Homo sapiens: one gene and its partner. The protein of the gene in region 1 interacts with the protein of each later gene in a pairwise test. Each region holds a gene or a part of one and is shown on either strand. Other genes may lie near its edges. The genes, in order: TUBGCP5 and HEMK1.

What was found.
Region 2: the proteins of TUBGCP5 (region 1) and HEMK1 interact in binary tests that used the Homo sapiens proteins (3 or more experiments, as listed by UniProt).

What each region holds. Positions count from the first base shown.
Region 1 is NC_000015.10:22,996,457-23,011,380, reverse strand, and holds the end of TUBGCP5 (gamma-tubulin complex component 5), read left to right. Parts: intron 1-49; coding exon 50-248; intron 249-1,247; coding exon 1,248-1,436; intron 1,437-2,499; coding exon 2,500-2,682; intron 2,683-5,028; coding exon 5,029-5,113; intron 5,114-5,208; coding exon 5,209-5,329; intron 5,330-5,770; coding exon 5,771-5,949; intron 5,950-7,153; coding exon 7,154-7,279; intron 7,280-8,227; coding exon 8,228-8,316; intron 8,317-10,711; coding exon 10,712-10,812; coding exon of another isoform or gene 10,813-10,859; exon of another isoform or gene 10,860-11,097; intron 11,098-11,514; coding exon 11,515-11,561; 3' UTR 11,562-12,204; downstream 12,205-14,924. UniProt on the Homo sapiens protein: Component of the gamma-tubulin ring complex (gTuRC) which mediates microtubule nucleation.
Region 2 is NC_000003.12:50,560,793-50,576,464, forward strand, and holds the start of HEMK1 (MTRF1L release factor glutamine methyltransferase), read left to right. Parts: upstream 1-8,729; 5' UTR 8,730-8,782; exon of another isoform or gene 8,783-10,009; intron 10,010-10,110; exon of another isoform or gene 10,111-10,138; 5' UTR 10,139-10,312; coding exon 10,313-10,540; intron 10,541-10,917; coding exon 10,918-11,009; intron 11,010-11,284; exon of another isoform or gene 11,285-11,322; coding exon 11,323-11,416; intron 11,417-12,578; coding exon of another isoform or gene 12,579-13,034; exon of another isoform or gene 13,035-13,908; intron 13,909-15,672. Other genes in the region: uncharacterized protein C3orf18, read right to left, coding at 125-272, 930-955, 12,579-13,034. UniProt on the Homo sapiens protein: N5-glutamine methyltransferase responsible for the methylation of the glutamine residue in the universally conserved GGQ motif of the mitochondrial translation release factors MTRF1, MTRF1L, MRPL58/ICT1 and MTRFR.

The DNA of each region.
Region 1 (14,924 bases):
TATGATTAAACAGAACTTAGTTCACCTTACATATTTCTTTATGTTTCAGATGCAGAAAGAAAAAGTTTATACACTCTCTTTCTGGAATCTGTACAGTCCCGTCTTCGACATGGAGAAGATTCCACTCCACAGGTTCTTACTGAGCAACAGGCAACCAAGGAGAACCTGATGAAGATGCAGTCCATTGCTGAAAGCCATCTTGAACTGGATGATGTTCATGATCCACTGCTTGCCATTAACTTTGCAAGGTGAGACACACCTGCAAGGTTATCAGTAATTGAAATGGCATCATTTGTGCAATGTTTGCTAACTGTTTATTTCTGGCAGGTAGGGCTAAAAACAAAAACTCTTGTAGGCTATCCTTTCTTTTTTCTTTTTCCTTTTTTTTTTTTGTTTGTTTGAGATGGAGCCTCAGTCTGTCACCCAGGCTGGAGTGTAGTGGTGTGATCTTGGCTGACTGCTGCAACCTCTGCCTCCCAGGTTAAGCAATTTTCCTACCTCAGCCTCCCAGCTACCTGGGACTAGAGGCATGTGCCACCATGCCCCGCTAATTTTTGTATTTTTTGTAGAGACGGGGTTTCCTCCTGTTGGCCAGGCTTGCCTCGAACTCCTGACCTCAGGTGATCTGCCCACCTCGGCCTCCCAAAGTGCTGGGATTACAGGTGTGAGCCACCATGCCATGCCTATCCTTTATAACAAGCAGAATACAAGATGTTGTGCTCACCTACTTCAGGTGTATAGTTTGGATTCCATGTCGTTTGTGGAAGTCTGCAGACTTGGCCCTGCCACCATGTGGTACAACTTTTGTCTGTGCCCTCGGGCCCCTGGAAATGTCATCATTTACCCAGAAGATGCTGAAACTCTGGGCCATGAGTGGGCCCTGGACACCCATTGAGTCAGGGTCCCCACTGGCATATAATATGTCCTGGGCTTAAGCTGCTTTTAGGCACTTAGTCCATTAGAGTAAGTCATTAATACCCACACAGTTCCCGGTTGTCTAATGGCCAGCATTTGCTGTGTCCAGCCCTAATCACTAGAAAGACCAGCTCTAGTACCTGACCCTAAGTCAGTGGCAACTTCAAGAGACTGGTTCACTCAAAGGATATTTTTGGGAGAAAGATTTTTCTCTTTCTGTAATAGTTGGTAACTTCAAGACTAAAGGTAAAAATGGAACTTCAGGGTTTTGATTTAAGAGAGTTCTGTTGACAGCAGCTCATAAAAAGAAGACTCACATTTTTATCTTGAAGGATGTATTTGGAGCAGAGTGACTTTCACGAGAAGTTTGCTGGTGGTGATGTATGTGTGGATAGATCATCGGAATCTGTGACATGCCAGACTTTTGAATTAACGCTGAGATCCTGCCTCTATCCTCATATTGACAAGCAGTATCTAGATTGCTGTGGAAATCTCATGCAAACTCTAAAAAAAGATTACAGGTAAAAGAGTAATTTAATTTTGGAAGTAGTAAATAGTTGATTGTACTTGAAGAACAGTTGAGATTATTTTAAAACCTATTTCAATTTTTATTAGAGTAGGAAATGGATATACAGTAAACAATTTTCTAAGAGAAATCAATTGACCATCAATATTTTCTTAACTATGTTTTGAAACTTAATTCTTTATTTCTGAGAATCTTTCCCAAAAGAAATACAGAAAAAGCTTGTAGAAAAATTACAAAGTTTGTTATCAGAATGAAAAACACTAAATTACTTAGTGATAGATGACTAGTTTTTTAAACTATGCATATCCATAAATATGGCATATACATACCCACATATGAACTTTGTAAAGTTCATAAAAATTATGGCAATTAGGCCGAGCACGGTGGCTCACACCTGTAATCCCAGCACTTTGGGAGGCTGAGGTGGGAGGATCACGAGATCAGGAGATCGAGAGCATCCTGGCTAACACGGTGAAACCCCGTCTCTACTAAAAATACAAAAAATTCGCCGGGCGTGGTGCCGGGCGCCTGTAGTCCCAGTTACTCTGGAGGCTGGGGCAGGAGAATGGCGTGAACCCAGGAGGCAGAGCTTGCAGTGAGCTGAGATCGGGCCACTGCACTCCAGCCTGGGCGACAGAGCAAGACTCCATCTCAAAAAAAAAAAAATTATGGCAATTAAAAAGCAGGAGATATAATACGGTAGGAACTAGGTTTTCTTAACACATAGAAGAGAAGACAGGAAAGAAACATTCCAGATATTAAATATTAATGATGGAAATCCACCATAAATGATGGGATTTGGATTTTTTTTTGTTACATTTTTGTGACTGCCCAATTTTCTATAATGTTATAGAAGATAACCTTTCTGATGATGAAAGGAAAACCTATGCTGTTTTTATTATTGGAACAAGTTTAAGAGGTGTTAATATTTCTAATTTTAGTAAATGTAGAATGTAAACTTGTTCCACTAAAAACAGGTTACAAAACCTGTTGTTGATCCAGAATCCTGCCTTACGAATGCCAGAGATCTTAGTGTCACTCATTTTCTCTCCATTCAGGTTGGTAGAATACTTGCAAGCTATGAGGAATTTTTTCTTAATGGAAGGAGGAGATACCATGTATGACTTCTACACGTCAATTTTTGATAAAATAAGAGAAAAGGAAACATGGCAGAATGTGTCTTTTCTTAATGTCCAACTCCAAGAAGCAGTAGGACAGCGTTATCCTGAAGATAGTTCACGGTAAAATATGGACGCCACCTTTATTTAAATTAGTGTAACATGAACTATGTGCCAGTAAGTCTTCTATGAATTACACATATTATTTTATCCTCACTATTCCTATGAGTTTTACTAATATTATTTTACTTATTAGAAAATGGAGGCCAGGCACGGTGGCTCACACCTGTAATGCCAGCACTTTGGGAGGCAGAGGCGGTGGATCACCTGAGGTCAGGAGTTCGAGACCAGCCTGGCCAACATGGTGAAACTCTGTCTCTACTAAAAATACAAAAAGCATGGTGGCAGGCGCCTGTAATCCTGGCTATTTGGGAGGCTGAAGCAGGAGAATCGCTTGAACCTGGGAGGCAGAGGTTGCAGTGAGCCAAGATCATGCCACTGCACTCCAGCCTGGGCGACAAGAACGAGACTCCATTTAAAAAAAAAGAAAAAATTGAGGCAGAGGCTAGCTATGTGACTCTCCTGCTAAACAACAAAAGACGTTGAGATGCCACCATATGGCCAGATGCAGTGGCTCATGCCAGTAATCCTAGCACTTTGGGAGGCCAAGGTGGGAGGATTGCTTGAGCTTAGGAGTTTGCAACCAGCCTGGGCAACATAGTGGGACCTCGTCCCTATAAAAAAAGAAAAAAGTTGCCACCATACGACCTGTCAGGGTCTGATGGCCTCCTTCACATGGCTGGAGTCAGTGCTTCCTCTCCCTGAGCTCCCACACATGAGGTTTTTCAGTCCTGCCTCCTAGAGAATGCCCCTGACCTCTCAGAACTGGCTCAGAACTCCCCAATGACCTCTGTGTCTCTCAGCCTCACTCCCTTCCACCAAAACGGACTTGACCCTCACCAGGGTGACCTCAGACCACCAGCAGTGACTTCCACCACTCATCCCTATGCTCCCCGTGGGTGCCTCCTAAACAGATGGACTAAGCTTTGTCTTAGAAGGGAGAAAGCTATTTACTGTCTGGCTCCATTTTCCCAGCCTCATGTCTTGCACACATACACACCATGTTCTCTTTCCTGTCTTCCTTCGCGTTTCAGGGATTTCAGAATATTTCTGGTGTCTGCTAGTGCTGTCCTCCCGCCCCCCTGTGACATAGTCTCCAGTTCATGGGCCCGGCAGAGGTCTGCTCATTCCTACATCCCCCTTGTCTTCGTGTGCTGCACTGGGCTGGGAGTCCCTGGAGGGAAGAGAGATTGGCTTTCTATTGCCTGCTCAGTGCAGCACCTAACTTAGTATTAGTATTTGGTAGATGCCTACTAAGCACTGAGTGAATGCATACATATCAGGCCATTAAGAGCTAAAAATTCTTTTTTTTGAGACAGAGTCTTGCTCTGTCACCCAGGCTGGAGTGCAGTGGCACAATCTCGACTCACTGCAAGCTCCGCCTCCCGGGTTCATGCCATTTTCCTGCCTCAGCCTCCCGAGTTGCTGGGACTACAGGCGCCCAGCTAATTTTTTGTATTTTTATAGAGACGGGGTTTCACTGGGTTAGCCAGGATGGTCTCGATCTCCTGACCTCGTGATCCTCGAGGATGCCAAAGTGCTGGGATTACAGGTGTGAGCCACCGCACCCGGCAAAGAGCTAAAAATTCTGACTAGTGCCTGTGTCATGGATCAGCCAGTTCATAATCACACACTGCCCTGTGACATCTCTGATTTGGAAGTTAACTCCCCACTTTAAACCTTCTTCATATGCATCCAGGCATCCCCTCTTAGTGCCTCTGTGACTGTGGAAGAGGACATCATTTCTCAGGAACCACTGATGGGAGTATTTTGAGGATTAAATGAGCTAAGGACACATAATAGTGCCTGGCACTTGGACATTTTCATGTCCATGTTAGATGCTTGCTTTCCTCTGTGAGTCACATTCAAACCTGTCTCAGGAACTTGTGGATGAAGCACTGCACAGTGCCTCTGGTGTAGAAGCAGACCCCATCCCATCTCGATGGGGCTCTCGAAGCAGTACTCTCACCACATGCTCGGCTCCGTCGAGCTGCTCTGCTCGTCCTCTCCTGCCCACCCCCAACCTCAGCAGAGGCTTCATCTTCCCAGCCATTGCCTGAAGTTTACTGTCTTCCTCAGCTTCATCCTTTTTCTAATTACTACCATTGTTAAGTGTCTCTTTAACTAAACTCATTGTTTAAAAGTTTTCTCCCTCTCTGTTTCTAAATCCAAATTTCTGCTCTGGAATATATGTTAGAAGAGATACATTTGTTGGAATGTTTGCATTTCTTTTATGAAATGCAGTATCTTTTGGGGAATATTATGTAAATGAAATACCAATTATTTTAAAAGAGCATTTTTGTGTGACATAGTGCTTTCACAAACTAAAACTGGAATTTCTTTCTTTAGTCTATCTATATCTTTTGAAAATGTTGACACAGCTAAGAAGAAGCTGCCTGTTCATATCTTAGATGGTCTGACCCTCAGCTACAAGGTATATGCTGATATTCCTTGTATGAACCGTGTTTTCTGCTAACATTAAAACATGCAAGTAATTGGTTACTTTCTAATTTTGTTTTTGTTTCATAGGTCCCATGGCCCGTGGACATTGTTATAAGTTTGGAATGTCAAAAAATTTATAATCAAGTGTTTCTTCTCTTATTGCAAATAAAGTGGGCAAAATATAGTCTGGATGTTTTACTTTTTGGTGGTAAGATTTGTTTTCAGCAGATAAATTGTAATTTTATTTAATTTTAGCCCTTAATAAAAGAGGTTAATGGGAAAGGGAAGCATACGGGGATCTGGAAAAAAAAAAAAAGTTGGTGGTTGTTGATCATTTTTTATGTGTACACAAATGCCAAAATGGTGCGTATTCTAGCAGTAGTTTTATGGACATCAAATGCCTGAAAGAAAGATCAGGAAGTTGTATGTACAGTTGATCTGAAATGCAACAACTTGATTAGGAAAAGTGATACAGGAAACTTTTCCCACTGCACCTTCCAGAGGCACTGAGGTTCGGTTCCTGCCACCCCTGCCAGTGCTTTCTGTGGTGCCAGGACCACATCCGTCAGTGTTTCTGCCAGGCGTCATGGTGCAGTGGGGTTTGAGTTGATGCTCTTTCTGTCCACTTTGCTCTTCCAATGTTTTATAGAACTGGTTAGTACTGCAGAAAAACCACGACTTAAAGAAGGCCTTATACATGAACAAGACACAGTTGCTCAGTTCGGACCACAAAAAGAACCAGTAAGACAGCAGATTCATCGCATGTTCCTCTTAAGAGTGAAGCTCATGCATTTCGTGAACAGCTTGCACAACTACATCATGACCAGGGTTTGTGCCTCTCCCATCTGCTTCAGTTCTATCGTCGTATCTATACAGTTGTTCGTAGAGAATTACTCATACTATGTTTATAAGTAAAAAATACCTACAGACTGTGAAAACGGGACATGTAGCAAATTTGATCATAAAATAACATGGCAGTGGGAGGAATGTTTTTGTAAATATACCGGAATATGTGTATCCAGAGGCTGTTGTCCCTCCAGTCCAGCAGCCCCTGGGGACAGGCACAGCCACAGCTCGTCTTCTGGAATTGCCTTCAGAATGTGCCGCATAGTCCTTTAGGTTTCAATAGTGGTGACAGCTGTCCCTAAAAAATGGCTCCAATGTTTAATAACAGCCAAAATCCACTACGGTGTGTGGGAGGAAGATGCAGCCAGGTTATAGACTTTTTTCTTAAAAACAAGAACTCACTACAAAGTAAATGAAATTATTTTTCTGATACATCTAAAAGCCAGTTCTAGGGGAAGTTCTAAAAGAAGCGTTCAGAAATTGGAACAAGAGCAGTATTATTAGAGGACAGTATGCATTTGGGGTTTGAATTGTTGTTTAGACCTGTTTATACCTGGTCTGTGAGTTCTGAAACCCAACTTGCTTGGGTGAAGTGAGCCACTGAAGCCTGTGTTTTGGATGGGAAGGCTATGGCAGAGGGGCTCCACGTTTCCCCTGACTGCATTACTGCCTTCACAAGGTTGGCCTTCATTAAGCCCCTAATTGTTAAGAGTAAATGATAAGAGTTTAAGTTTTTTCTTAGTTTGTTTTTTATTTGAGGTATACTTATACTCATTTTAGAGAAAGATCAATGTATGAGAAAAGGAACTTAAGAAACATAAATTCACTGTAATTATTTGTATAAAAGTAACACATTTACTTGATTTTTTTTTTATCGATGTGTCTTATATACAGCTTAATGTGCTTGCCCCTTCCTGCCAGGAAGTCTGTTAGTCCAGAGTTTGGCGTTCATTCATTCACTGTGCAAGTGGGCGTCCTACAGGATTGCCCCCGCCGTCCTCTTAGGATCAGAACGCCAGAGTATCCAGCCAGCCTTTGAAGAATGGTACTTTATGAAACTGTCTAGATGTGCTTATTGAAGGAAGAATTTGAGAGGAGTAGAAGAGCTTAGTAAAAAAGATTTGTGTGCAGCACACAAGTCCTCAAAGAAGGCTGCTGATGAAGCTTTTTATCTTTCTCTTCCAAGATTCTACACAGTACAGGGCTGGAGTTTCAACATCAAGTCGAGGAAGCCAAGGATTTAGATCAATTGATTAAAATTCACTATAGGTATCTGTCAACCATCCATGACCGGTGTCTGCTGAGAGAAAAGGTACATGAGATGTCTCCTGCAGATGTGGCCACTGCTGGGCGAGTGGCGCTGTCTGCGTGCTTTGGAATTTTATGATGATTAAGCTTCTGTCCTGTAGAATATTCTTTAAGGAAGAACCAGATGAAATGAGGTTACAAACAAATGCCCCAGGCCGGCCACAATGGCTCATGCCTGTAATCCCAGCACATTGGGAAACTGAGGCAGGCAGATCTTATGAGGCCAAGAGTTCAAGACCACCCTGGGCAACATAGCAAGACTCTGTCTTTACAAAAAGTTAAAAAGATTAGCAGACATGGTGGTGCATACCTGGAGGCCCAGCTACTTGGGAGGCTGAGGTGGGAGCATTGTTTGAGGCCAGGAGTTTGAGGCTGCAGTGAACTATGATCTGACACCACTGCACTCCACTCCAGCTTGGGTAACAGAGCAAGACCTTGTCTCTTAAAAAAAAAAAAAAAAAAAAAAAAAAAAACAGAAGGAGGAGTGCCCTATTCGTAGAAATTGTATCTAAGAGCAACATGAGAACTATGTGTGATAGTCAACACTCACTCTGCGTTACTCTTGGATTCATTTGGAAAATTGTGTCTGCAGTTGCGGAGCAATAGCATGTCCACTTCATGTGAATAGATAGAATTCAGTAATGTTAAAACCATTGCAATTATTTGTCCTAGTTTCATTGGTGAATTTAAATGGCCATCCCAGGAAAAGGTCTTAATAGTTTGTTTTGTTGGTTTGACTGTACTGCTAATATCACTTGTATCTTACATTCAGTGAATGCATGTGCCTGGTCCCAAATGGGCATGGTTCAGAGCCTAGTACCCTTCCATATACACAGAAGGCAGTCACTGTGGTGATGAACTTTTTCTGTGATTCATTTAAAATAGGTAAAAGTGTTGGTATCAGTGTCCAAACCTAGTTACACAGTTTGTGTTCTGTGACTTTGGTCTGCAGGTCAGCTTTGTGAAAGAAGCTATCATGAAGGTGTTGAACTTGGCTCTCATGTTTGCAGACGGTTGGCAGGCAGGCCTGGGCACTTGGCGGTAAGTATGTGATTTCTGCAGCATCTGCACTGTGACCATTTCAGCTTCAGCTTCCCTTTTTTTTAGAGACAGGGTCTTCCCAGCCATTCAGGAGGCTGAGAGGAGAGGATTGCTTGACCCCAGGAGTTCAAGACTAGCCTGGGCAACATAGCAAAACCCAGTCTTTAAAAAAAAAAAAAAGTGCAAGTATTTTTTGAGAAGTAAAACATTTTTAAAAATCTGAGGTCTTCTGATTTAAACAAGCAAACATTTTTAGATTATACTCATGTTATATTGTGTACGTTTTGTTAAATTTTTATCATGGACACCTTCAAACTGAAGTGGCAAAGACAGTGTTGTGAACACCGTGATGGCACCTGCTTCAGCTGTGCCAGTGAGGACAGCTCTGTCATGTCTGTGCCCACCTCCCCAGTCACACTTGCTGAATTATTTTAAATCAAATTCTGGACATCATGCTAGACTATTCTCCAAAGTTGTATTTTGGATGAGCTCTAAAAGATGCTGTGTTTTGAGAGTGTTTGTTATTCACACACATCACATAGGCAAGTGCACTGAATCAGGGGAAGTGGCCCGGGAGCAGCTCCCTCTAGCACTGCCATCCTCTACTGTTAACTCCAGTGTACAGCTCAATATTTTGTTACCTGTCCTGTTTATAAAGTCAGTGCAACAGTAATTCTGCTGTTACTTCCATGAAATAAAAGTGCATGTTTGGTTGACTGTACTTACTCCATGTCAGTAAGGAAGTAAGAATTCATTTGAGTGCTAGTATAATTCGAAATCTCCCATTGGCTGTACTCGGAATCAAGAAACTAAGGTAGTAGATGAAGCCATAGCTGCAGGGATGGAAATAGAAGTCTTCCTCGCTTTATATTGCTGGCTCAAAGTGTGCAAAATATATTTTGCTTTTTTTTTTTCTTTTTTTTTTGTCTCACTTTGGGGTGGAGGAGAAATAACACTGCTGCATATGCTTTGCTGAAATTCAACTCTTTCAGGTTTTTTTTACAAATAAATGTGAGAAAAATACAGGGGGTGAGGAACTTAAGAAGTCTATCAACCATCGCAGTTTATGGATAAGTTAATTGTTCCTGATTGAGACTTAAAGCCGAAAAGTGAAAAATTGTAGAAGCAATGTGAAATTTGCTTGAATGCTATTAGATGATATTTTTGAGCAAATGGTGTTGTGGCTGTGTTTTGAAAGGAGTCTTTATCTTTAAAGTATACATTTATACTTATGAAATATTCATGACTGTGGTGCTCTGATGTCTCCTGTTTGCTTCTGAATATTGTGGTGGGGCTGTGGAGGTGTAAGCTTGGCATGTGGCACCTGCCATGGCTGGGCAGTGGGCCATGGAAACCCCTTCTGAAGTTCTCTCTTACAAAGTGTTTGATATTTCTTTAAAAAAAAAAAAAAGAAAGAAAGAAAGCCGAGCACAGTGGCTTACGCCTGTAATCCCAGTGCTTTGAGAGGCTGAGGTGGGCGGATCTCCTGAGGTCAGGAGTTCGAGACCAGCCTGACCAACATGGAGAAACTCCATCTCTACTAAAAATACAAAATTAGCCAGGCGTGGTGGTGCATGCCTGTAATCCCAGCTACTTGGGAGGCTGAGGCAGGAGAATTGCTGAACCCAGGAGGCAGAGGTTGTGGTGTGGTGAGCCGAGATCGCTACATTGCACTCCAGCCTGGGCAACAAGAGCGAAACTCTGTCTAAAAAAAAAAAAGGCAGCCAGGCTCCATGGCTCACAACTGCAATCCCAGCACTTTGGGAGGCCAGTGGGGGCAGATCAGCTGAGGTCAGGAGTTCGAGACCAGCCTGACCAACATGGCGAAACCCCATCTCTACAAAAAATACAAAAATTAGCCAGACATGGTGGTGGGCATCTGTAATCCCAGCTACTCAGGAGGCTGAGGCAGGAGAATCACTTGAACCCAGGAGGCGGAGGTTACAGTGAGCCGAGATCGTGCCACTGCTCTCCAGCATGGGCGACAGAGCAAGACTCCATCTCAAAAAGAAAAAAAACCTTTTTAAAAATAATTTCAGATTTTAAGTTTTATATCCTTAATGTGTTCTTTATTTCAAAGAGAATGTATGCTTGTAAACAATAAAAACAAGACTGTATAAAGGAAAAGGGAGTATCTTTGGTCCTCCTAGTTCCAGAACTAGATACTATCTGGAAACAGCACAGTTTTATATCCTAATGAAACTTCCTTTGAAACACTTTGACATTTTTTATTTTAAAGTAGGGTAGGACGTTATGTGTTTTATTTTATAATCTTTAGATTTAGGATTTTAAATAATTAAACCAAAATACATTTGAAATTACTCCACAGATATCTTGAAGCCTACCTATATACCCGCAATGCACTTACTTAATTGAAATTTACTTTTATTCCTAGAATGGAATCTATAGAGAAAATGGAATCTGATTTTAAAAACTGCCATATGTTTCTTGTAACCATTTTAAACAAAGCCGTCTGTAGAGGATCCTTTCCCCATTGTGAGTATATCATGTTAAAATATTTCTACCTCTGTATTTCCTTGTAACTAAGTGTATGTGTCATTGTTTTGTTACTGATCCCATGAAGAATTAGAAATTCTCACCATTTTCAAAACTGAAAAGTCCCTTAGCAGTTGTCCCATGCTTTGAATTGCTTTTTAAGCATTACGGTGAGGTGAGTGTAAGCCTGAGGATCTTACTTTCTGGTATACCATTTATTACAACAGATTTCTAAAACTCCTATTAAATAAAGTTGATGGCAGAATAGATTTCTGTCACACTTCACTATCGTGTAGTTTTTGTAACTATTTCTTTTCAAAATCTAGTCTTTTTAAAAATTTTTTTAGGAATTTAAAGCTCCTGGCCTGGCGCGGTGGCTCATGCCTCTAATCCCAGCCCTTTGGGAGGTTGAGTGAATCACTTAAGGTCAGGAGTTGGAAGACCAGCCTGGCCTACATGGCAAAACCCTGTCTCTGCTAAAAATACAAAAATGAGCTAGGCATGGTGGCACATGCCTGAAATCCCAGCTACACAGCAGGCTGAGGCAGGAAAATTGCTTGAACCCGGGAGGCAGAGGTTGCAGTGAGCTGAGATTGTACCATTGCACTCCAGCCTGGGTGACAGTGGGACTCCGTCTTCAAAAAAAATTTTTTTTCAACATTTAAACCTATTGTTTTAACCTTATTTTTATTCTTCCCACAGTGGAATCTCTAGCGTTGTCACTCATGGCTGGCATGGAACAAAGTTAAATGTCTTCAGCGTAATAAATATCTCCGACTTTGTCATCATACATGTACATTTCCACCATGTGCAGCTGAAAAGTGAAAATATTTTTATTTTGGTTTATTTGTAAAACTTGTCCACAGTCAGCCTGGCACAGTCGCTCATGCCTCTAATCCCAGCACGATGGGAGGCCAAGACAGGCAGATCACTTGAGCCCAGGAGTTTGAGGCCAGCCTGGGCAACATGGTGAAACCCGGTGTCTACCAAAAATACAAAATGTATCCAGACATGGTGGTGTGTACCTGTAGTCCCAGCTACTCAGGAGGCAAAGATGGGAGGATTACTTGAGCCCAGGAGGTCAAGGCTACAGTGAGCCATGATTGCACTACTGCAGTGCAACCTGGGTGACAGAGTGAGACCCTGACTCAGAAAGAACCACTTGCCCACAGTCCAGACAGATGGATTGTAGGTGGGTTTTCTGGAGATTAGTAGATACTGTATAGAGTTGTATACATAAAATTGTGTCAGTAGTACAAAGTGTATATAGGCTGTTTACTCTTACATTTCCTACTGTAAGATACAGATTTATGGTACTGATACCTTTAAATTATATCATATTTTGAAAATGTAATTACTGATATTCAAAATAAATTAAAGGACTTAAAATCATTTTATTATCCTTTTGCTGCTGTCCTACAGTCACAGAAGCTTTTTATATAGAGTTTTACATGTTGTCTTCCCTAAAAGTTGTCTTAGATGTAGCTGTCCTAGAAATGTTTATATTTTGGCTGGGTGTAGTTTCTCAAGCTTGTAATCCTGGCACTTTGAAAGACTGAGGTGAGAGGATTCCTTGAGGCCAGCAGTTTAAGACCTGCCTAGGCAACATATGAGACCCCATCTCTCCAAAAACAACTTAAAAATTAGCCAAGGGCTGGGCACGGTGGCTCACCCCTGTAATCCCAGCACTTTGGGAGGCCGAGGTGGGCGGATCATCTGAGGTCAGGAGTTCAAGACCAGCCTGGCCAATGTGGTGAAACCCCGTCTCTACTAAAAATACAAAAAAATTAGCCAGGTGTGGTGGCCCACATCTGTAATCCCAGCTACTTGGGAGGCTGAGGCAGGAGAATCACTTGAACCCAGGAGGCAGAGGTTGCGGTGAGCCTAGATTGTACCACTGCACTCCATCCTGGGTGACAGAGCAAGACTCCGAAAAAAAAAAATTAGCCAAGCATGGTGGCACATGCCTGTGGTCCCAGCTACTTGGGAGGCTGAGGTGGGAGGATCGATTGAGACCGGGAGGTCAAGGCTGCAGTGAACCATGATTGCATCACTGCACTCCAGCCTGGACAACAGAGCAAGACCTTGTCTCCAACAAAAAAAAAGAAAGAAAGAAATGTATATATGTTTTGTTGTGCCTGAGAAGTTCTACATGGAAAATAGCTTCAACTGATAGCGATAAATGTAAAAGGCCAACTTCACTTAGGGCCAACTGTTGGTACATACTATTGTTTGGTATTTCCTTGTTTTTTGAAATGTGGAGGCTCACTCTGTTACCTAGGCTGCAGTGCAGTAGCACGATCTCGGCTCACTACAACCTCTGCCTCCTGGATTCAAGTGATTCTCCTGCCTCAGCCTCCCGAGTAGCTGGGATCTCAGGCGTGCACCACCACGCCCAGCTAATTTTTGTATTTTTAGTAGAGACAGGGTTTCACCTTGTTGGCCAGACTGGTGTCGAACTCCTGGCCTCAGGTGATCCACCCGCCTTAGCCTCCCAAAGTGCTGGGATTACAGGCGTGAGCCACTGTGCCTGGCAATATTTCTGAGCAATTTTTGTGAGCTAACCAGTTATATTTTGAATAGAATTATGCTTACTATTAAATTTTTCCATATTTTCTTTTTATAGAGTGAGACTATCTTTAAAAAAAAAAAAGGCCACACATAGTGACTCATGCCTGCAATCCCAGCACTTTGGGAAGCCAAGGTGGGTGGATCATGAGGTCAGGAGTTCGAGACCAGCCTGACCAATGTGGTGAAACCTTGTCTCTACTAAAAATACAAAAATTAGCTGGGCGTGGTGGCACACACCTGTAATCCTAGCTACTCAGGAGGCTGAGGCCAGAGAATTGCTTGAACCTGGGTGGCCGGAGGTTGCAGTGAGCTGAGATCATGCCACTGCACTCCAGCCTGGGCGACAGAGCGAGACTCTGTCTCAGAAAAAAATAAGAAAAAGAAAAAAAATATGAAAGCTAGAACTGGAAACAACAAAATGTGGAAGTTAGGACTAGAAAGCTTCTAGAAGCAAACATGGGAAATTAACACTACAAACTTGGGGTAGACAAAGATTTCTTACATAAAATCAAAAAAGGGGCCGAGCACGGTGGCTCATGCCTGCAGTCCCAGCACTTTGGGAGGTCAAGGTGGGTGGATCACCTGAGGTCAAGAGTTCCAGACCAGCCTGACCAATATGGGGAAACCCCGTCTCTACTAAAAATACAAAAATCAGCCGGGCGTGGTGGCGCACACCTGTAGTCCCAGCTACTCAGGAGGCTGAGACAGGAGAATCGCTTGAACCTGGGAGGCAGAGGTTGCAGTGAGCCGAGATCACACCACTGCACTCCAGCCTGGGTGACAGAGCAAGACTCCGTCTCAAAAGGAAAAAAAAAAAGGAATTATTGGTGAATTGGACATCACCAAAAAACATTGCTAGGAAAATGGTAATACAGGCCACAGACTGGGAGAGAACATTTCCCCTTAGCCCCTTTCAGGAACCATGTCATGCCCAGAGGCAACCACTGTTGCCCAGGGTGTCCAGAAGTAACTATGTTCAGAGTGTATGAAGGCATTTTAAATTAGTAAGACAAGCTTTTTTTTTTTTCATTGATGCAAGGTCTTGCTTTGTTGCCCATGCTGGAGCGCATTGGCACAGTCTTGGCTCACTGAAGCCTCAACCTCCGGGGAGCAAGCACTCCTCCCTCAGCCTCCTGAGTAGCTGAGACTACAGGTATGCACCACCATATGCGGCTAATCTTTTGTGTTTTTTTGGAAGAGTTGGGTTTTCAGCCAGGTGCAGTGGCTCATGCCTATAATCCCAGCACTTTGGAAGGCCTAGGCAGACCGATCACTTGAGGCCAGGAGTTTGAGACCCGCCTGGCCAACATGGTGAAACTCCATCTCTACTAAAAATACAAAAAATAGCTGGGTGTGGTGACAGACACCTGTAGTCCCACCTACTCTGGGAAGGCTGAGGCATGAGAATTGCTTAAACCTGGGAGTTGGAAGTGGCAGTGAGCCAAGATCACACCACAGCCCTTCGGCCTGGGTGACAGAGCAAGACTCTGATTCAAAAATTAAAGAAAATAAAAATTAAAAAGATGAAGTCTTAACTATGT
Region 2 (15,672 bases), on another chromosome or scaffold:
TATACCCAATACCTGCCATCTGACCACAAGGCAGGTGCTAGAAAGCTGCATGAGAAAGGAGGGAGGGTGAGGGTGGAGGACAGAGGATGCTGCAGGCGGGGTGGGGAGCCTGGTCAGTGCCCACCTTGCCCTGCATGGCCTGCACAGAAGTAGCAGCCTGTACAGAGGCGGCGTCCCGCCCATGCTCCAGCAGCTCCTGCTCCAACTCATCTTGTTCCTCCGTGGGGTCGAAGTTGTACATGGGCATGAGCTGGTGGCGTAGCTTCTCCAGCCTGGGGATGGGGGCAAAGGCTGCTGGGGACAGGGCAGGCCCTTCCCCTCCCAGCAGCCCTCCAGGCCCTGCCTCCTGACTAGCTGAGCCACAGCACACAACCATGCTTAGGGCCTTAAGGTTTCCCTTGAAATGGGAAAAAATGACAGACATTTTTGCACCTATAGTACCAGCTCAACCCCTTAAATGGGTAGCCAGGGAGGCAGCAGTTACCCACTCCAGGGTAAGGCCATACGCCAAGTAGCTGTCATCCATGGGCCCCACAGAGATCACCTAGGCTAGGGCCTTGCTGTAATCCACAGCGTCTGAGTCTCAGGTGGGACTGGGGAGCCAGTAGCAGTCAGCTCAGAGCAGCAGGGCAAGGGTGGCTGGGCAGTTGGGTGGGAGTAATCCCAGCCTTCCCCCTCCCTGCCATCCCCAGTCCCAGGATTATACCCAGTTATCTAGAATCCTCACACCTGCCTGCCCTGTGTGTGAGATCCTTGTGCAAGGGGGGCCCTCAACCCTCCCCAAAGGAAAGTGGTCACCCCCAACCATGAATGGGCAGGACAGGCCTTGACTCCCTGATCAGCTTTTCACCCACTTCCTTCGGAGCCCAGCCCAGCACTCCCCATGGCCTCAAGTTTTGGGTGGGATTTGGGTTTGGGTGGGGAATTACCTCTTCTTCTTCCTGATGTACAAAACCTGCAAGAGAAGGAGCAGCATCAAATGGCAAGGAGAGGAGGCCCTGAGGAACCCAGCAGCCCTTCTGGATGGGGACATGCTGAGGCTGATGAACAAGAGACCCGTGGGTCCCCGTCCTAATGACACATACACCACTCCCCCTTCACCTTCATGCCTCTTTTTTTTTTTTTGAGACAGAGTCTTGCTCTGTCACCCAGGCTGGAGTGCAGTGGCACAATCTCGGCTCACTGCAACCTTCGCCTCCAAGGTTCAAGTGATTCTCCTGCCTAAGCCTCCTGAGTAGCTAGGATTACAGGTGTGCACCACCACACCCGGCTAATTTTTGTATTTTTAGTAGAGATGGGGTTTTACCATGTTGGCCAGGCTGGTCTTGAACTCCTGACCTTGTGATCCACCCGCCTCGGCCTCCCAAAGTGCTGGGATTACAGGCGTGAGCCACCACACTGGCCCCATGCCTCCTTTTGACATTGTTAGCTGCAGACAGTGCCCAGACTGAGTCTGGGGACTCAAGAGGCTCCCTCCAGCCTGGGAGCCCACACAGTTAGGCCCGGCCTGGGGACTGGTGGGCCCCACCTATTGGCTGGGCTGCCAATACTAACTGTAGCTCCAGCCACTCAGCACCTGCCTGTGGCTCCCCAGGGCTGAAGAAGAAAGGGAAAACTTCAGCACATTCCCTCCCCTCAACTCTTCCCAGGCTCAAAGCCACATGCAGGCAAAAAGTAAAGGGACCCGGTAAGGTAGCACATGCCTGTAGTCCCAGTTACTCAAGAGGCTGAGGCAGGAGGATCTCTTGAGCCCAGGAGTTCAAGTCCAGCCTGGGCAACATACTGACACCCCGTCTCTACAACATGTAAAAAGAACCAGAGACAGGCAGTGGCCAGACTCTGTAGCGTGTAGAGCAGTGGCTCTAGGCAAGGCCCTGAGCTGGTGGTCTCCGGAGTTCCTATGGGAGGCTGACGGCCCCCAGTGGACTAAGGTAGGGGTGGGGGACTGGAGCCCCTAGGCATCAGCCCAGGTCAACTCCCAAAAACTCTGATGCAAGAGGAACCTAAGAAGGCCCCTAGGTCCGGTCCCCCATTGTACAACCTTGAAGATGAGGGCCTAGGCAGCCTGAGAAAACATCTAGGACCTCTAGGCCAGAGTAAGAAACCCTGTACAATGCCCTGAGGAGAGGGAGGAAGTGGGTAAGACTTGGGGGACCACCTTGGGCGGGGAATCCAGGGACTTCTGCCATCATCCTGCTCTTCCCTAAACTGGCAGTTTCTGACTACCAGGAGCATGACTACCTCTGCCTCGGGGAAAGCACAGCCCTGTGGTTTACCCCAAATCCTCCCACATTCTTTGTGCCCCATTCACAGCTTGAATCTGGTTTGATTTCCAGCCTGGCCCAGAGCTCCTCCTGCAGGACCCCCAAAACCTGAAAAGAAACTAGGGTATCAATCCTCACTCTCCCCTCCTGTCCAGGGTTGCATGTAGGGGTGCTCCCTTGCTCTCCTGTGGGTAGGCTGTGACAGGAACTCTGGGGTCTTCTGGCCTAGCCCCTGCCACCCTGAGCAAGTGGATCCAGCCCCAGCCCCAGCCCCTGTGGTCCCCACCTCTCAGCCCTTGCCCCAAGCCCTCCTCCCTCCCCTGAGACCCTGGGATTCAGAAGGATCTACAGAAAAGGCCAGAACCTTTACGCAATTTCCATGCCTTTTCCCCTCTTCCTCAGCTAACAGCCACCCCCACACCTTCCTTTCCAAATCTTCCCTACCCCTCACTGTCCAGCAGGTGCAGCCCCCTCTCCTCCAGGAACCTCCCCCACCACTGATCCTGGTCTGCCTGTACCAAGCACTTTTCCTTCCTGGGTAAGGCAGAAAGCCTGGTGCAGATTTGCTCCTCCTTGTACCCACGGCCCTGCTTGAGGCTGGCATCGGGGAGAGGAAGCAGCACTCAGTGAGCACCTCTGGGCCTGTCTCCGGTCCCCAGGAGCTATCTTCTGCCCTCCGCTGCCTTTGTCCTACGAGCTTCCTACCTCTGATTTTGGCAAGAGGGGCATCCACCCAGGCCTTCTGAATGTTCCTCTAGAACAAAGAGTAAGAGAGCGTTCTCAAGTTCCAAGGACAAAACCTTTCACTGAAAGTAACGAGGGCAGTTTCTAGGCCCCATTCTGCCCTTAAGGGTGCCTCCATCTGCTTACCCACTGCATGGGTGCCAAGGGAAAACACTGGCATCCTGCCTTACCTCCACCCAGGAGACCTCTCAGGCCCTGGCCTCATTCTGCCTGTGCTGCACCCTGGGCCTGCTTGCTGGCTGGCAGTTGCTCCCTGGCAGCAATCTGGAGCCTGTGGGGCCCATATGGCAACCCTGGTTTAACAGCAGCTCCAACCAGGCCATGATGGGCCATCCACAGCCCTACTTGTCAGAGCAACATGCTCCTAAGCCCAAGGCCAGCCATCAGAGCCTGCGAGGAGCAGTGGGCAGAATCCTACCATTGCCAGGCATACTGGGGAACCTCAGGGGCACCCCATCCTCCCTAGTCTCAGCCTGCACGATCTCCAGTGGTCCCTCAGTGACATTCTGAGTGTCCATGTATCATCTTAGGGGGACAGCCCATATCCTTAGGGACTGACACCAGATCAAGAGGCATCACACTCACTACTGAAGGATACCTGCAGCCCTCTCCCCAGCCCCCTTCCTTCCTGATGGCTGCCACCTCCACCCCTTCTCATGACACGGAGGCCAGGCTTCCACTTTGAGGTCTCAGCTCTAATTTTGCTCCTCAGCTGTTCCTAACCACCTAGTCTGGAAAGCATTCCTGCTTTCCTGCTTGAGTCCCCAAGTCAGTCCCTGCAGGCTTCCCTTGGAACCCTTGGTTTTTATCTGTTTCCCACTCCCTGTAAGAACCACAGGGCAGGACCTTGTCTTCCCAGCCTCTATTGGGTTCCAAAGGCCTGGTCCAGGGCAGGTACTCAGTAAATAATTGCCAAGTGAATAAATGAATGTTCACTGCCAACAGCCTCCCATGCACAGATCATCTTACCCAGACTCTGCAGCCCACGGTCCACATCAACCACCTTTAAGCCTTTTCTTCTATTGCAACCCCACATCCACTGCCCTAACTGTCCTGCTGGCTGCTCACAGAACCCTCTGTCTGCCTCCAAACTTTTGCCCATCAGGACTCTCCACTTGGAACTCCTTGACTACTATGTGGCCTTCATGACCCAGCTCAAGACACCATGTATTCCCAAGAACCTTTTCTGTTGTTTCCAGTTGGAAGCGTAGCCTCTCTGGTCTCTGGGCCCCAGTGGACAAATCTCTGCAGGAGAGGAGGACTGCACTCTCATTAATAGATTGTTGGCGGGCACAGAGGCTCATGTCTGTAATCCCAGCACTTTGGGAGGCCAACGGGGGCAGATCACTTGAGGCCAGGAGTTCAAGACCAGCCTGGCTAACATAGCGAAACCCCATCTCTACTAAAAATACAAAAATTAGCCGGGCGTGGCAGCTCACACCTGTAATCCCAGCTACTTGGGAGGCTGAGGCAGGAGACTCGATTAAGCCCCAGAGGTGGAGGTTGCAGTGAGCTGAGATCAAGCCATTGCACTCCAGCCTGCATGACAGAGCAAGACTCTGTCTCAAAAACAACAATAACAACAACCAGATTGTCTTCTGATTGATTAGGTTCTCTATAAATCTAAACACTGATTATCCTCCCCCAGCCTACCCCAGCTCTCACCAAGGCCACAGCCAGGCCTATCACCGTGATGATCCCAAAGGACAGAAGCATGGTACCCACGCCGGCCGTGCCACCAGCTGCATCAGGGATTCTGGTGTCATTAAAGGTGGTGGCCTCTGGGCTGAGGGTAGTGGTCTCGGAGGCTGGCCCATCTGTGGCAGGTTCCAGGTCAGACTCAGAGGTGGGTGGGCGGCTGCTGAACCAGCCCCTAGCAGATGCGGTCCTGGAGTTCATGCTGATGCGGAGAGGGCCCTGGCTGAGAGGCTGCCTGATGCCAGTCAACCTGCCCACTCACTCCTGACTCCGGAGTGCCCCAGCCTGTGGTTCCTGCCACCTGTGGTGGCCACCTGCACAGCCACCTCCTTGGATAAAGGGAGCCCCCTGCCTTCCTGGGTGCTAGAAAGGAAAGAATAAGAAACATGAGGCTAAGGACAGGGGCTCAGTAGTGAGATGAAGTCTCTCTAGGTTCTGAAAGCACTGGGGAGGTAAAGGTTTGAGGGCAAGAATGAGGGTAAGTTCAGGAGACATTAGGACACATACTTTACGTATCTACGGTGCCCCTGTTTTTGGGAACAAAAATGAAGCCCTGCATCCTCTGTCTGTGGGTGAGATGATCATAGTGATCAAACCTGGAAGATATGAAAGGCAGCGGGGATGTTTGAAAGAAAAAGTCTCCCTCCCCTGATCAAAAACTCCCCTCAACCTGCGTCCCCATATCCCCCACCTCCCCATATCCACCTCCTCATTCCCTGCCTCCCACATCCCTCATCCTGCTTGGGGGAAAAAATACCACAGCTTTTTCCTTTCCTGGAGGGAAACACTTGCCCAAGAGTCAGACAGGCCTGTCTTTGAAACCTAGCTCAGCTGCTTAACTAGTGATCCCTAGAAAGTCACTCCACCTCTCTGTGTCTCCGTTTTCCTGAGTCTAAGGTGGGGATATTGAGAACATCCCCACAGGGTCATGGGGTTACAGAAATGGCAGAACAAACAGGTGTCGAAGAAAGACTTAGCTCAGCACAACCCCCATCCACAGTAAGCATCCACTACATGTTAGATTTTCTCCCCATGGCCAACCCAGTCACAAAGGGGAGCCAAGGGAGCCCCTGGACCCAGTCCACTGTATGGTCCAGACTATGCTTGGAGTGTGGGTGGAGGCTGATGTGGAAAGACCAGAAGACAAGAAGGAGAGAGAGGCTCTGGTTCTCTGGCGGGGCTTCTCCGCAGGCTCTCGGGGACATTGGACTGCCCTCCCCACCCACCAACAATAGAGGGGCTGCTAGGGTCAAGGAGAAAGGCGAGGCAGGAATGGAGCTCCCAGTGTGGGTGCCTTCTCTTCCTTTACCCTCCTCCCCTGGAAGCAGAGGGTGAGAGATTTGCCCAGTGCAGAGGGCCCTGGTTAAGGTGGGGTGGGAAGAGGTGCCAGCCAAGCTGCAGATGGGACGGCCTAGGGAGAGGAGGGATACCTAGCTCGTGGGTGCATACATCCCCCTGTGCTGGTTCATGGGCATTAGTGGGGTTGCCTCCCTGTGCAGATGCATGGGCGTGTGTGAGATGTGTAAACACCTCTGATGGTCCCTGAGGAAGGGGCAAGGCTGGCAGAGGGTTATGGGGTAGAAAGGCTCATCCCTCTTTGCCTTCTCCCTCCAGCTAGGCTGGGCACATCTGGGCACATAGGAAGTCCCGGGTTCTTTTCTTGGCTTTGCAACTGATCCCGGGCGTGACCTTGGGCCAAACCCTTAACTCGTGCCCTGGGGCTCTGTTAACATCGCCTCCCAAAGGAGAGAAGAGGCCCTACTGACCACTTTCCAGGCCTGCCTCAGGGTCCAAAGGGGAAGGGAAGGAAACCGGGGTAAAAGGGGTCGGCACCGCGACCTTCGAGAACCCGCATGCTGTTCTCCACCAGGTCTCTCAGTCCTCCCTGCCCCAATCCCCATGCCCGCCTCCGCGACCCTGTGATGCCTCCCTTCTTGCACAGGAGCAGTGACCTCAGCACTTACTTAATCCTCTCCCGGCGCCGAGCTCAGTTGGAGAGGCTAGGGGTGGTAGTGACTGGCAGGAGGCCGGGGCGGGGGGAACCCCCAAGCCCGGCGTCTGGGGCTGCGGGTCCGACCCGAGATCCGCCCTCCCTGCAAGCCCCGAGCCGCTGGCCAGGCCCGCTACTGCGCACCAGCCGCATCCGCGAGCGCTGGCTCTGCCGGCCTGAGCTAGGGTGGGTAGGGCCGGGACCCACGGCGGAGGTGGGGCCGGGCCGAGCAGCCTCGGGGGATCCCCGAAGCTACAGCGCCTTGCCTCCCTGCACGCTCCGCGCCCCCGGCCTCCGATTGGCTGTCGGGCCTAGAGCCCGCCCAGAATTGGACCGTTCGCTTGTCGCTCGGGTCTGGCTCCACCCCCAGAGGGAGCCTAGAACCTGGTCGCAGTTTTTAGAGACTACCCTCACCCCGTGGCCTGCGCCGAAGTTGGGCGGAGGACAGTGGGTGGCCAGGCCCTTCCGGGCCAGAACTCGGGACCCCTGCCAGCTACCCGTGCCAGGACAGACTCAAGCCCCCAAAACGCGGATGGATGTACAGAGGAGACTTGGGGAGAGCACTGGACTGGGAGTCCTTGGGCCTGCACTGAACTCTGGCTGACTTTGTGACCTTGAAGAAACTGCTTTTCCCTTCCTGAACCTTGGCTTTCTACTCAGACGGGTCCTCTGGTGTGAGGGTTCTAGACGAAGATGGGGAATCTTCGTCTACAGAAGTTGAGAGTGGGGTGGATTTATTATTGGGCACCCCGACCCAGGCAAGTCTACATATACCCTCACAATAGCTTCCATCCACGGCATGATCAGCTCAGGGAAGGAGCCCTCAGATACTCCTGATCCGCCGGTTTTCAAAGTAGTTTATGGGAGTCACCGGGTAGCCTGGTACAAATGCAAACGCCCCTGTGTCTCCCGGTCTGGGAAGGAGGCAGGGAAACAGCATGTTTAATAGCAGTTTAAGGCCGGGCGTGGTGGCTCACTCCTGTAATCCCAGCACTTTGAGAGGCCGAGGCGATGGATCACCTGAAGTCAGGAGTTCGAGACCAGCCTGACCAACATGGTGAAACCCTGTCTCTATTAAAAATACAGAATTAGCCGGTCGTGTTGGCTCACGCCTGTAATCCCAGCTACTTGGGAGGCTGAGGCAGGAGAATGGCTTGAACCCGGAGGCCGAGGTTGCAGTGAGCAGAGATCGCGCCATTGTACTTCAGCCTGCGCAACAAGAGCAAAACTCCGTCTCAAAAAAAAAAAAAAAAAAAAAGAAAAAAAGAAAAAAAAAGTAGTTAACAGTGTTCTAGTTAACAGTACTTTCTGGTGGGGAGATGTTGACAAGACACACTTTGCGAGACGCTGCCGAGTATTTTATAGAAGGCGCAACTGAGGTCCAGAGGTCCCAACACCTGGAGGAGTTGCCAATAGAGTCAAGATTCGAATCGGTAAAAGAGCGGCCCCTGGGGTCTGGCCGCCAGTCGGCCGACCCCCTGGTGGGCTCGGGCCACTGACCTCGGTAGGGTCACGACACTGGGACTGGACCCCAAAGTTGGACCAGCCTTCAACACTGGAACCCGCCCATGCACAGCTCCACCCGGCCCCCAGGCTAAGATAGACCACGCCCCCGGACATCTGGTCCCCGCCGGAACACCCGGGCCCTCTGGTGACACGCCCCCTTTCCGGCAGGCTACTGGGCTCCGCCCACACACCTCCCGGCCTGGTTCCTAAACGCCAGCTCGGAGCAATCCCCTTGGGCTGGAGCCAAATCCCTGCTGTGATTTTAAGGAAGACCGGCAGGTCCGGGCCCCCAAGGGTCAACCCCACACACATCCCCGCACTTTCCTGTATGCAGGCCTGCGAGCGTAGAGGGAGTGGAATTCACAGCCTCCCCACCCATCCGCAGGGGTCTCCTGGGAGGAACCCACCAGCGATAGGAACACTGAAGCTGGGCTACGGCGTCCGCCCGAGCCTTTTCTTAAAGGCGCCGACCCCGGAAGCGGGGCGTCCGAGGGAGCGCGCGACGGGCCACGCACGTCCGGGCGTCCAGTTCGGGGCAGCTTCTCCGGCTGGTGGGTGGGTGGGGCAGCCTTTCAGGCAGGTATGCATGGGAGGTGGGGATCGGAACGGGGTGTTTCGACTGCAACCGCCTGGAGACCTGGCCGGTACCATTCTCCATAGTGCAGATGGGGAAACAGGGTTGGAGAGAGGGGGCCTCATCTGGGTCGTTAACAATGCGGTGCGTAGCTGTGAGGGAGTTTACACTTCTGACTTCGGGCCTTGGCTCCTGGGACGGCGCACTGGTGCAAGAGCCGCTTCTGGAGTCTGGTGGACTCGGGTTCGTGTCTTGCCTGGGACAGTCTTTTTTTTCTTTTTTTTGAGACGGAGTCTCTCTCTGGCACCCAGGCTGGAGTGCAGTGGCATGACCGCGGCTCGCTGCAACTTCCGCCTGCTTGAACTGGGTTCAAGCAGTTCTCCTGCCTCAGCCTCCCAAGTAGCTGGGACTACAGGTGCGCGTCAGTATGCCCGGCCAATTTTTTGTATTTTTAGTAGAGACAGGGTTTCACCATGCTGGCCAGGCTGGTCTCGAACTCCTGACCTCGTGATCCGCCCACCTCGGCCTCCCAGAGTGCTGGGATTACAGGCGTGAGCCACCGTGCCCAGCTTGCCTGGGACAGTTTCTACCTGAGTGACGCTGGGCAAGTCGCTTCCCTTCTCTGACCCTACTTGTATCTGAAGATGTGGCACTTAGCAGGTGCTTAATAAACGCTAGTTTGGACTTTTATCTGGAAGCAAAGGGGACCGCTGATTTTAAACCTTCAGTTAAACTTGCTTGTGACCTCTTTAAATATACAATTGTAAATTTTTTAGTTGGTGGTTTACGCTGATGTCCCGGATTATAGGTTAAATTAGGAGGAAATTTTCAGCATGTACATCCATGACAGTACACACACAATGTCAGATTCAAAGCTCCCAATTAAAGGCAATCATCTGCCTCTTGTAACATCAGTTAAGATCATGTAACATCTGGTCCCTGCTGTGTGTTGAGCTGCCTCCCAGGCCTTGGATATTCATAGACTAATGCATTGCTTGCCATGGGTTTGGTGTGATTTTCCCCCATCTTATGGATTAAGAAAGTGAAAATCAGAAATAATGACTTGCTCAAGATCACACACGCTAGGTTAGACACAGATCTGTCCTGTCCCCACATATGTGCCCTAACCTACCACCAACCCGTTTATTAGCAGAGACTGAGCTATGGGCTCAGCCCACTCCAGCTAAAAATGTGAAGAAAACGTAAGTGGCCAAGACAAGAATGATCAAATAGGTGGGTAAGGCTCTAAATGGAGTCAAGGGGGTGTCAGAGCAAGAGCACAACTATTCTCAGGCAATGTATTGGTAGAAGGGGGGGTGTCATACAAGGCTCACCTGCTTTCCTGGTTCCTCTCACTCCCAGGGTGGCAACCAACTATATCTGAGGACCAGAGCCATTTTGGGGCACCAGAGCTTGTGACCTCTCCATCTCCACCCAGCTGGGTCCAGGGGCCACTCTCAGCACTCACCTCAGCAGCTGACATCATAAAGCAGACTTGGGAACCTGGAAGCACTCTGGAGAACCTTTCCCTGAGACATGGAGCTTTGGGGCCGAATGCTGTGGGCCCTCCTGTCTGGCCCAGGGAGGAGGGGAAGTACCCGGGGCTGGGCCTTCAGCTCATGGCAACCCCAACCACCTCTGGCTGGGTTATCCAGTGCCATAGAACTGGTCAGCCACTGGACTGGGGTCTTTGAGAAGAGGGGTATCCCTGAGGCCCGGGAATCCAGTGAGTACATCGTGGCTCATGTCCTTGGAGCCAAAACAGTTAAGTTTAGTGTTGTCAAGAGGACAGGAAGAGGGAGGAGGGAGGACTTGGGGAAGGGATATCCAGGTTTTCTGTTCACTAAGAGTGCTTAGCTGAGACTGATGGGATTTTTCTGAAGGAACGTCTTAGCGCCTGGCACACACTGTAACAGTTTGTTGGATGAATGAATATATCTCTGCCTAAGTGTTCTGGGATAGACACCTGGAAGCCTGGTGTTAGCTGTGTAACCTTAGGCAGGATGCTGCCCCCTCTGGGCCCAGATGATGAGAGGGTTGGGCCTCCAGACCAGTGCTGGGCAGGCATTATCCACATAAGACACCTGGGTTGGGGGCCTTGGGCCCAGTGAGCCAGCCACTTATATTCTCTGTGGGGACAGTTTCAGAGCCTGAGGCCGGCACTTTGGACCCAGCCCTTGACCTCTCAGCAACTACAGTGTATCCGGGAGCTGAGTAGCCGTCGATTGCAGAGGTGAGCACCCATGGATCAGACCTGAAGGATGTGTTCAGGGAGCAGCAGTCCAGCCTCCCCTATCCCCACCAAGTTCAGGGAGGAGGAGAATGTCCAAGGACTAGGGAGGTGTTGGGGTGCAGGAGTGGCAAGAGTGGGGCCGGGGTACTGAATAGGAAGAAGGGAGGGAGGGAGGGTTTTGCCTCAGGAGTCCCAAGGCCCTGGAGACATGGTCTTGCCTGATACCTTTGGCCACAAGTGGTATCTCAACCCAGGCATGGTCCTGTTGGTCCTAGCTCTGTCCCTGATGACCACCCAGCTGCCCCCTCTGCAGGATGCCGGTGCAGTACATCCTTGGAGAGTGGGACTTCCAGGGGCTCAGCCTAAGGATGGTGCCCCCAGTGTTTATTCCTCGGCCAGAAACAGAGGTAGGTGTGCCACCAGGGCAAGGCAGGATCAGGATGATGGTGGAGTTCAGGGCACCAGTCTTACCCCAGGCTTCCTCCAGGGGGCACTGGGGCCCCATGACTTCAGGGACAGTGCCTTTCTAGACATGTATTTCCTCTCTGACTGTGTTGGCAGAGCCCAGAGGACAGAGGATTCCTGTTGGTCCCCTTGACTGTTATGTTCCAAGCTATCAACCCAGCCTCTAGGTCTGGCAATGGCCCAGAGTGCCTCAAATAGTGCTGCCCAAGTACTTAGCCTGTTCTGCCATTTCTCTGGGAGCCATCCCATGGCTCACCCAACCCACAGGGAACAAATGTCTTCCAGCAGCTTCTCAGGAGGCATGGAGGAAGTGGAGAGGGCTCCAGCCGGACACCTGGAGACCTGGTATCAGCTGTGCAACCTTGGGCAGGTCACTGCCCTCCTGCCATCTCTGGGCCCAGATGATGAGAGGGTTAGCCCTCCAGCCCAGAGAATCTGGTGGCCCTCTTAGGTCTACTGACTGGTCTGGTAATCACCTGTGTTGTCCCTCAAATTACTAGGACTAGGGATGTGTGGCGCAAGTGTGTTATCCCTTGGTAAGGCACCCTGGTCCTGGAAGAGACGCTTTATATGGCCCTTCTTGGACTCCCCTCTGACCTTGTAGATGACAGAGCTGGGAGCCAGAGGGCGCAGACCAGGGAGTAGAGCTGGGTGAGAGCTGGTGGGCAAGCCAGAGGGCGCCAGGTTCTGAGAAGGAGTGTTTCTAGAAAGACCTAGGCACACAAACATTTCTGGGAAAGGTTAGTTCCCATTCCCCTGCTGTGGCCAGGGGGCCCCAAACCCTTCTTTCACTTTCTCAGCTTCTGTCCCCTAGCCAAGAAACTCTCTGACCCCTCTCCTCTCCATATCATGTGGTTGGGAGGCCAGGTCCTTGCTTCACTGCCCAGTGTCAGGGCAGGGACAGTAGGGAATCTGAGGCCTTGCTGAAGTCACAGGGCTGTCAAGGAAGGGAGCATGGGGGCAGCACGTGGACTTCCTGACTCCCAGCTCAGAGCCCCATCCCTCACATGGGGCTGCCCCATCTGGGATTGGCATGACCTAGGACACAGTATGGAGACCCAGAGCAGGGTGTGGCCTGCCACCTGCAGACTTTGGGAGGCTTACCTGTGGCTCCTGAAAACACGTGATCTCTGGCGAAGAGATCATTTGCTGTCTCCGGCTTCCCAGGGTCAGGGCATGGTGACTTTTGAGTTCCTTCAGAGCTGACCTGGCACCAGCCATATGTGCCAGGGTTCTGAGTATCAAGTGTGGACTTTGGCTCCCATGTGGCCCCCTGATTCTTGGATGGGTCTGGGCCAAGAGAGCAGCTCTACTGCAAGGGGTGGGGTGAGGGGAGATGCTGCGATTGGGAGGCCAGGTGCTCATCTTGCTGTGCAGACATTTCTGAGAACTCACCAGGTTCACCCCAATGTAAAGCCACATCGGGGGATGCCTTACCAAGAACTCAAGAGGACGTGGCCTGTGGCAGGGAGTAGTGAGAATGGGTGCAGGGGATGGTTTCTGATGAAAGGGGAGTCTGAAGTGCAAACTTGCAGGAGGCATGTGCCCAGTGAGTTGCATTTTCCCTAAGGGTGAGAAGGTGGTTCAGCCCCTGGCCTGGCAGTGAATACAGTAGGAAACTCAGGGCTGGGGGTGTGAACCATTCTCACCCAGCCTGCTGTGAGGCTGTACAGGTTGTGGGAGGCTCAGTGTTTTGTCTGTGATTGGCTTGAAGGAGGCAATGCCACCTCCCTGGGTCTGCCCCACCAGGGATGCCATCCTAATAGAGGGTACTCATGGGCACTTAGGTTCTGCCCAGGCCTTGGGCCAGCCTCTTGATGGGGTATGGAGTCCATGTTGGGGCAGCAGTTCTAGGCAGAGCCAACAACTGCCTGCCCCTCACCTCTTTCCCGCATGCGTCTGTGCCCCACCCTGTTCTTGGATTCTTACCATATTCACCTGGAGGGGGTGCCCTGAGCCTGTGACCAGCATGGCTTTTAGTCTTGCCGAAAGAGCCACCAGCGTTAGGCTGAGGGAGGCTCTTCACTAGGAGGAGAAGAGAAAGTTTCTGGACTCCTTGGGCTGTTATCTACCCCTGCCCCAGGTGGCTCTACAACCAAGATGAGTTTCCGGTGCTCTGGAGTGTTATGGCAAACAAGAGGCCACTAGTGGTGGCAGGGGCTCAGTTTCTTAGCTTCTTACCCTCCCCAAGGTGGCCATCCACATACGTGGTGTGTGTCTTTGAGGTCTTTGAGTATCTCTGTGAGGTGGCTGGCCAGTGTGGCTGGCTGAGGGGTCATTCTCCAGCCAGAGTAGGTCTGTCTATGACCAGGAAACCAAGAGAGGCTTACACACCTGACAACAACTGGTCACCCTACCAACCTCTCAGCTTGTGGCCTCACCACTGAGACCACAGGCTCTCAGCCACAGCCCTATACTGCTCACTCTGTACCTGGCCCAACCTTGCAGGCTAAGCTTGCCACAAGTACCTTAGTGGTCTCCAGTAGTGCCTGGCACAGGGCTGGTGAGAGCTAGTGAATACACACTCTCTCCTGCTGGAACTGGGCCCCCTCACCCACAGGCAATCATTTGTTAGGTGCAGAAGAGGCTTGGAACATGGAGGGTTGGACCTGCTGGCCAAGTTCTGCCTGCTTTGGACTTGCCACCCTCAGGGTGGGTGAACATTGTTGCTGGGTTTGGGGGCCTGGAAGGGTGAGATGCTTTTTGGAACCCAGCACTGGGGAACTTATGTGGAAAATGGGTGTGAGTGATCTGGAGCCCTCTGCTCCATTGGGCCTGGCTGATGGCATTGGGGTGTGGGGGAGACCTGGGGGTGTGAGACTCAGAGGGTGGTGCCACAGAGAGCTTGCCCATCACTTAGAAAGTAGCCAAGAGGGCCAGGCGCTGTGGCTTACACCTGTAATCCCAGCACTTTGGGAGGCTGAGGCGGGTAGATCACCTGAGGTCGGGAGTTCGAGACCAGCCTGACCAACGTGGAGAAACCCTGTCTCTACTAAAAATACAAAATTAGCCAGGCACAATGGTGCATGCCTGTAATCCCAGCTACTTGGGAAGGCTGAGACAGGCGAATCGCTTGAACTTGGGAGGCGGAGGTTGCGGTGAGCCAAGATCGCGCCATTGTACTCCAGCCTGGGCAACAGAGCGAAACTCTGTCTCAAAAAAAAAAAGAAAAGAAAAGAAAAAAAGAAAGTAGCCAAGAGGTTTGTCTGTGGGCCAAGCCCTGCCAGTGTGGGACACACTGCGATGAGTCAGACCTCAGGTCTTCCTATTATGGCGTCTGGTGGGAGAGGCACACCCCATCCTTAGGCTAGACCTTAGGCTCAGGGTGGAGAAAGCCGTGGTAGAGCCTGGCCCAGGCTTGAGGAAGGCTTTCTGGAATAGGTAGTCCTCTTTTCAGATCAGGGAAGCACCCACTTGCTGCCCACCATCCCCAGCTCCCTGAGCCAGTCTTTCCTGAGACCTGGGGTCCCAGGAGTCCTGACCCTCTGGGGGGCTTCTCTGCCCACATCCAAAGGGATGCCTTTGAGAAGGAGCTACACTGCCCTTTCCTTGTCTCATGCCTGGCTACTCAGGTGTCCCACTCCACTGCTGGTTAGAAAAATTTTGGCCATTGGACGGCAGGAGCCTTCCACCCTTTACCCCTACCCTATGTTGGTTTACAGGCATAGTCCTTGCAGGCAGTGGCTGGGTAGGCAAGGCTTGAAACCCTCTTGTTTCCAAAGTGACAGTGTCTGAAAATGTCCTCCTGCTGCCAGGGCAGGTACAGTGCAGTCAGGCACCTCCCTCTGCACCCATGCCTGTTGACCTATGCCTGTGTATGCCACAGCCCTCAGGTCCTTAGTCAGGACCATGTCCCCCCATGGCCCATCTCCTCCAAAAGAGGGAATTCCCTGTCCCTTTGGCCTAGGAGCCTCCCTGGGGGCCTCTCAAGCCCAGCTCTGTGAGGAGGCTGGGGACACACCAGCTCCTGATTCTTGGCCACCATGAAACCACAGGCCAGGCTCAGGTGGGGCCTTGACCCCAGGCCTCAGTTTCCTCATGGGACACTTGTGAGGATTTAACAGATTAATACAGGAAAAACTCTGGGAGCAGGGTCAGGCCAGAGGGAGTGGACAGGAACTATCAGGTATGGTTCTTAGCTTTTTTCTTTTGAGATGGAGTGTTGCTCTGTCTCCCAGGCTGGAGTGCAGTGGCGCGA